2 linked regions of the Homo sapiens genome follow. The protein of the gene in region 2 interacts with the protein of the main gene of each other region in a biochemical or structural test. Each region holds a gene or a part of one and is shown on either strand. Other genes may lie near its edges.

Evidence for each region.
Region 1: the proteins of RAP1A (region 2) and ELOA form a complex in vitro, tested with the Homo sapiens proteins (one study listed by BioGRID).

The regions. Positions count from the first base shown.
Region 1 is NC_000001.11:23,746,216-23,750,250, reverse strand, and holds part of ELOA (elongin-A), read right to left. Parts: intron 1,231-4,035; coding exon 1,174-1,230; intron 410-1,173; coding exon 303-409; intron 1-302. UniProt on the Homo sapiens protein: SIII, also known as elongin, is a general transcription elongation factor that increases the RNA polymerase II transcription elongation past template-encoded arresting sites.
Region 2 is NC_000001.11:111,692,789-111,696,288, reverse strand, and holds part of RAP1A (ras-related protein Rap-1A precursor), read right to left. Parts: intron 949-3,500; coding exon 880-948; intron 1-879. UniProt on the Homo sapiens protein: Counteracts the mitogenic function of Ras, at least partly because it can interact with Ras GAPs and RAF in a competitive manner. Together with ITGB1BP1, regulates KRIT1 localization to microtubules and membranes.

The sequences.
Region 1 (4,035 bases), about 88 Mb from region 2:
TGAGCCGAGATCACGCCACTGCACTCCAGCCTGGGCAACAGAGCGAGACTCTGTCTCAAAAAAAAAAAAAAAAAAAAAAAGAAACGTACCAAAATGTTCATAACGTTTGTCTTTGCGTGATAGAAATAGGAAATTTTGATTTCTATTTTTAATATTTTCTAATATTCTACAATGATCATGGATTATTTTTTATAATTGAGGCAAAACAATTTCAGAAGGCAAAAGAGAAATAATAAAGAAAACCTTTTCTATCTGTAAATTTAACCATGAAATTGAACAAACCTAAAGAGAAATGTTCTTACCGTTCCACAGGAACCAGCTTCTTCCACTGGGCCACTAGGTCCCTGGCAAAGCTTCCAACATGCTCGTGTTTTCGCAAGCTATTTACTGTTTTCCCAACCCCAGTCTCCTAAAATTTGACAAAGTAATTGTTAGAGGGGTCTGGAACTAGGCTAACGTTTTTCTAAAGAAATAAGGCTTTCTACTTTGAGAAACTCAACAAGCAATACTTCCTTCCTACAACATACCCTGCAAATCTTAACACTAAATTACTTTGTGTCTATGCCCCAAATCTCTAATGACACACAGTAGCAAAGCGTACCAAGTTCAGAACTTTAATAACAAGAGTGATTAGGGCAGGTGTTAGGCACTAAGATAAGAGCTTTGCATACAGTTCTGAATCAGTCTTTACAATAACCCTGTGAAGCAGGAATCAGACCCATTTTACATAGGAACAGCCTAAAGTCATAGAACTCAGATTTGAATCTGGGACTAATTGATGCCAAAGTCAATGTTCTTTTAATTCTAATTTTGAAATAAAGTCATTTAACAATATTCACCACTTTAACTAAAGTACATAATTCAGTGGTTTCCAGAACATTCACAATATTATATAACCATTATAACCATCTAATTCCAGAACATTTACATTACCCTAAAAAGAAATCCTGTTCCTCCCAATTCTCCTAGCCCCTGGCAACCACTAATCTACTTTCTGTCTATGGATTTGCCTATTCTGGACATTTCATATAAATGGAATCAGACAATATATGGCCTTTTGTGTCTGGTTTCTTTCACTTCCAAAGCCCATACTTGTAACCTTATTCTACACACTCTCCAGTGAGAAGGGAATGGGATATCATTATATAATATTTAAAGTCACACAGTTCTTACCGCAAGAATGTCTACTGTAATAGGCAGGGTGGAGAGTTTCTTCAAATATTTCAATAGCTGCAGAGAAGAAAACATTAATTTCAATAGTCAAATTCACTTTAACAAGAATATCTGATTATTAAGTGCTTAGTGCTAACCATTTACAGTAATGAGTATAAGTATTATGCCTATTTACAGTAGTAAGTAATATCCCTATTTTACAAGTATGAAAATAGGCTCATAAAAGTTATGTTTCTTGTCCCAAGATGCAAGTGGGGCAAGATTCACTCAGGTCTGTGGCTTTAGATTCCCTGCTTTCAACCACTGTGCTACACCAAGGGGAAATAAGATGTAGAGAAGAGAATCAAAACTTACCAACTCTGATAAAAGCCATCAACAACTATCATTTTTGCCCTAGTTTTGATAGAATTTATGAGAAAGGTACCAATTTTAGGGGAATTACCCATGGACCTGGCACAGAGGAAGTAAAAGGAAGAAAAGGCCTCTACAGGAAAAGACCATCATGTTTCCAGAAGGGCCACAGTGTTTAACAGAATTGTTTTCTTCTACATAAGTGTAAAGCCAAGAGTAATTTCAAGTTGCCAGAATCAGAGCTTGGATGTTAACGGTGGACACAAAATGCCTGGGTAGATTAGAAAAGTGATCTGGGTTTGATCACATTTCCTTCCTATAGTTCCTAAAACTAGGTCAAAATCAGTACAGCAGAGCTGTTAAGATGGAGTTCTGGAGTCAGAGACAGGCTTGACAATCTGGCTTTGTCACTCGATGAGTGATCTTGAATAAGTCAAAAACCTCCCCAAACTTCAGTTACTTCATCTGCAAAATAGGAACTTGGTCCTGTCTCTACTTCACAAACTATGAGGATTCAGAGACAAACCATGTGCAGTCCTTAGTCATAGTGTCTAGAACACTATGAAAGCTCACTAAATACTTATCATTTCATTCATCGACTGACAGCTTTCAGCGTTCTGCCCTTGATCTTCAACCAGATATTCCTCAGCCAATTCCTACTTGCTCTAACAAAAGTTATGACTGGCCAAACCTTTCTCTAGGAAATGTCTACGTGTATCTAAACATACTTACCATACAAGGAGTGCTTCAAAATACAAGTAGTTTAAAATAGATAACTGTGGTTACCTTTGCATTTAAATATTATATAACAAGATCTGCTTTTACCATGTGTGGCCCAGACTATAATTGGTATGCCATATTGCTATTAGGTGGAGTAACAAGTCTGTTTTTCTGGTCATTCTACTTCAATCATTACTTAACATGGTCACCAGACAGAGCAATTGGATCACAAGTGATAATCTTGAGATCAAGTAAGAGGCCAAGTGGCATATCTAGGGAGTCTCACCTTCATAGATGAGTGAAAATTATCCCCCACTTCAAATCCTATCACCACCATCATCCAACTCAGGAAAAATTTTGTGTTTCTTGCCACCCAAGCTATGGGTGCAAAGACTAATGCCAATTCCTTCACTTAAAGGAAAATTTTAAATCACTGAAAAGGTCAAAAACAAGTGGTTCTCTCATAATGCCATTCCTTGGAAGGGGTAGGTTGGGAATATTCACATACCATCTATTGTGTGTCAGCTACTACACTAAGCTCTTACACGTTACCTCATTTCATTCCCACTAACCAACTCTATAAAGTGGATGTTATTCTCCCCATTTGACAGATATTGCAACTGAACCCAATCAGGTTAGGTAACTTGCTTAACAAGCTGGAAAGTCAAATGTGTCTACTACAGTTAAGTAAAGCCAGGAGAAGCATCCAACATCAGAACACTGTCCTTAGGAAATGAAAATAGAGCGGCAGCACATATACTTCTTAGCATACTTGCAAGAAAGCAGAAAAACTCCTCCTGTGATGTCATTAGACAGTTCAGAACCCACATAGTAAAGGAGGTCACCAAGGGAACAAAGGTGTCCCAGGACCTCTACAAAGCCAACATATAAGGATGAGGCTGGAAGTCACTGTGGGTGTGTTTATCTCAAAGCCTAGCACTAACTGGAAGAACAAATCCTGTCTTTCTGCTTTACTTTGGGTTATTAGGGGTGATTTAAAAGCAGACAAAACTAAAACCCTCAAGATTTTCAGACTCATTTAGTCTAACACAAGAGAAAAAAGGACTTCACAACCCCTCTATTTTCAGTAAATTTCAAGAAAGAACAAAGCAATAACAAGGCAAAGGCACATTGGGCATCCTCAGGTGGATCGAAACTTGCTGTTATCAAACAAGATACCAACTATAGAGCTTGTAAGAACTGGTAACAGGCAACTGAGAAATATCAAACATTTGCAAGGTACATGTTGAGGCATCTCAGTTGTCCCCTGTACAATCCTTCAACCCAAAAAAGCAAAAAATATTTTTAATGTCACCTGCCATCAAAATGTTCTTGGTAGCTTTCACAGTGAAAATGTAACACAGGACGAGGATCCTTTTTTTTTTTTTTTTTTTTTTTGGAGATGGAGTTTTGCTCTTGTTGTCCAGGCTGGAGTGCAATGGTGCCATCTCGGCTCACTGCAACCTCCGCCTCCTGGGTTCAAGAGATTCTCCTGTCTCAGCCTCCCGAGTAGCTGGGATTACAGGCACCACCACCATGACCAACTAATTTTTTTATTTTTAGTAGAGATGGGGTTTCATCATGTTGGCCAGGCTGGTCTCGAACTCTTGACCTCAGATGATCCGCCCCTCTTGGCCTCCCAAAGTGCTGTGATTACAAGCGTGAGCCACTGCGCCCGGCCAACTGTGTGTGTGTGTTTTTTTTGTTTTTTTTTTTTTGAGACGGAGTTTCGCTCTTGTTGCCCAGGCTGGAGTGCAATGGCGCGATCTCAGCTCGCTGCAACCTCTGCCT
Region 2 (3,500 bases):
TCAAAAGCAATCCTTTCCTATTAAAGTTTAATCTTTTTAAAAAATATTCTTGGCTACTAGCCTTTTATAACCTCCACCCCACCCAATATATTTGACATAGAAAATACTGAAAATTTTCCACAACTCTGGCTGGTCTTCTACAGAATATTTTTTGTCAAGACCAAGTACCTAATTTTTTTTCCCTTTTAAATAGACTTTATTAGAGCAGTTTTAGTTTCACAGCAAAACTGAGGGGAAGGTGCAGAGATTTCCCACATACTCCTTGCCACCACAAATGCATAGCCTCACCCCACCATCAACATCCTGCACCAGAGTGGTACATTTGTTACAACTGATGAACCCACATGAACACATCGTTATCACCAAGAGTCCACAGTTTACATTAGGATTTTCTTTTGGCATGGTACATTCTATGGGTTTTGACAAATGTATGGCATATAACCCAATTATAGTATTACACAGACTCTAATTTTTTGGTAGTCTAAAGATATCTTTAAACTTATAAAACTAAACAAAAATAAAAATGTTCAGTCACTGGATAACTTCAAGCATAAAGGTGGTCTTAATTGTTGGTAACAAAAGAGTAAGTTGAAAACACACCTACTATTTATATGCAATTTTTTCATATGTGGCAACATTCCCCACCAGGAAAATGTCCACATTAAGGAACAAGTCACTAATCAGTAACAGAACATAGAGCTCTGAATATCAAAGTAGTATTCTGTTAAGAAATGTTCTGTCTTGATGAAACTTTTAAAAACAGATGCACAATATTTGTATTATTTCTCAAAACTATTTTCAAAAAGCAAATCTACAGATCAAATTTTAACATCATAAGGAACTACTTGTAAGCATGTGTGTACAAGTTTCACATTTTACCTTTCTGTAGGAATCTTCTATCGTTGGGTCATATTTTTCAACAAAAATTCCCTGAACAAACTGAACTGTCTGGGGGAAAAAAAAAGAGAAATATTAAAAAATTAAAGGAAAACTCCTTTGAATGTTACTTAACCTACAAATTATAATGATTAATTGAAATTATGTGAAAATTCTGGGTAAACACGTAAATGTAAAGTATATTATTAATTCTTTCAATATAAGGATACATCCATAACTAAGAGTACATTTATTATGAAAGGAGGTAGTCATGTTAAAAACTGTCATCAATACTGATAATACACTGTTAATTACATTAAGTCTTAATATACAAGGATACAAATAACATATCTGAACTAATTAAAACATGAAAAATTATCAATATTTAAACTCCTATTGCCCCTTTATATATCTATAGTAACTTTTATCCCATGCCCTCTGCCCTTAATGGAGTGACAAAGGTTCTAATTTTTTTTTAAACACAGGGTCTTTGCTATGTTGCCTGGGCTGGCCTTGAACTCCTGAACTCAAGAGATCCTCCCGCCTCAGCCTCCCAGGTAGCTGGACCTCAAGCAGCATCTTGTAAATTTGTTAAAGCCTTTCTAAATTGTGGTGGAAAAGAGAAAGGGAAATTTAAACTTACTGAATGTCTATTATGTTCCAGACATTAAGCTAGTCACTTTTAATTTATAACCACATTCAAATTTCACATTTGTCCCAGAAATAGTTATTCTTCCTATTTGCCAGCTGAGATTCAAACATACATCTTCCTGATTCCAAAGCCTTACTTTTTCCATTGGAAAATATTGCCCATTCATCTTTTTCAGATATTATCAACTTTTAAAGGCATCCAAAAGCACATACTAGAAAATACGTATTTATCATTCAGTAAGTGAAAAAAGTACAGAAGACGGTTTTAAGATATTTCCTAGGTAACTTTAAAACAGGGTCTGGTACATTATTGCCTAAAAAGCAAGGGTAAGAATGTGGACTGAGGTCATCTACACTTAAATTACTCAGAGGAATATTTGATATACTATTTTAGCTTGAGCTAAAGAGATTAACTCAAATATAGTAAACAAACTTCTTTCTCCTACTAAGCTTCTATTATTCAAAGGCAACTCAAGATATAATCACACCAAAAACCTTAATCATGATTTTTATCAAGGATTTAATCACCTCATCTTCTAAGTACGACACATAATTTAAATATACAAAGCAGTCTACGCTGGATGCAGTGGCTCATGCTGTACTCCTAGCACTTTAGGAGGCCAAGGCAGGAGGATTGCTTGAGCTCAGGAATTTGAAACCAACCTGGGCAACATAGTGAGACTGTCTCTACAAAAAATTTAAAAATTTAACCAGGTGTGGTGGCATGCACCTGTAGTCCCAGCTACTTGGGTAGCTAAGGTGGGAGGATTGCTTAAGTGTAGGAGGTTGAAGATGCAGTGAGCCATGATCACGCCACTGCACTCCAGGGCAAGATGCTGATTCAAGATTTAAAAAAAAAAAAAAGGCAGTCTAATACAGCTTCCTAATATGCTTTAGGCTAGAGCAGAGAGTCTCAAAATATGGTCCAAGGCAGAGGCTCCCTAAGGTCAAACTATCTTCCTAACAATACTAAGATGTATTCTAAGAGGTACTCTTCTTCTTCTCTCATAAGTTTACAGTGGAATCTTCCAAAGGGTATAGAACATGTGCTATTGAAAGAGACTGGATACAGAAGCAGGCAAAAGAGCCCATGTGCCTTCTATAAGCCAGACATTAATAAGACTTGCAAAAATGCAAAACAATCCAACGTTTCTCATTTCTTTCTTACTAAAAGTAATGTTTGACTACTCCTCTGAATCTTATCCTCTGTCTTAATTTTCAGGGACATCTCATTCATTCATTCACATAGATTATAATTTTATTCCTCAGGTTTTTGTACTGGATCATCTCCTCTTTCCCTCTCCTGTATCCTTATTTTCCTCTCCAGTGGAGAGGAATTGCCCCCAGCATACAAATATGCTTTACTATCTCCAATTCTAAAACAAAAACAAAAACCTCCCTTAACCCCAATATCTCTCCAGCTTCTGCCCCCATTCTCTGTCCCCTCTCATAATCAAGCTTCTTCAAATGTCTATATTCCATTTCCTCAGCTCTCATTTAATCTTCAACCCACCCCATTATGGTTATGGCAACATGACCTGACTAAAGCTGCTTCCTTTATCATGTCCAACTGCCTCTATGCTCTCTGATCATCTCTTTCCTCTTTTTTACTTGACTTTTGAGGAATCAAGTAAAGACACCTTCTTCTATGCTAGATCCTCCAATCCTATCTACTTTCTAAAGGTTGAGAGGTACTCAGAGCTCAGTCCTGGGCTCTGCTCTTCTCTCTCTAGTATCTCCCTAGACCTCTTTCACTCCTATGGACTTTTTCCAAAATTATTTTTGAAAAGGTAATTCATGGACATAGGACTAAATTCAAAAAGGCACAAAAGGCTATGCAGTGATAACTAAGCTTATCTACCACCCTTGTTCCCAGCTATCCAATCCTACTCCCAAGAAAGTAACTGATGTTATTCATAGCTTATTTAACCTTGAAGAGATACTCTATGATTTTACAGGTATCTACCCTCAGC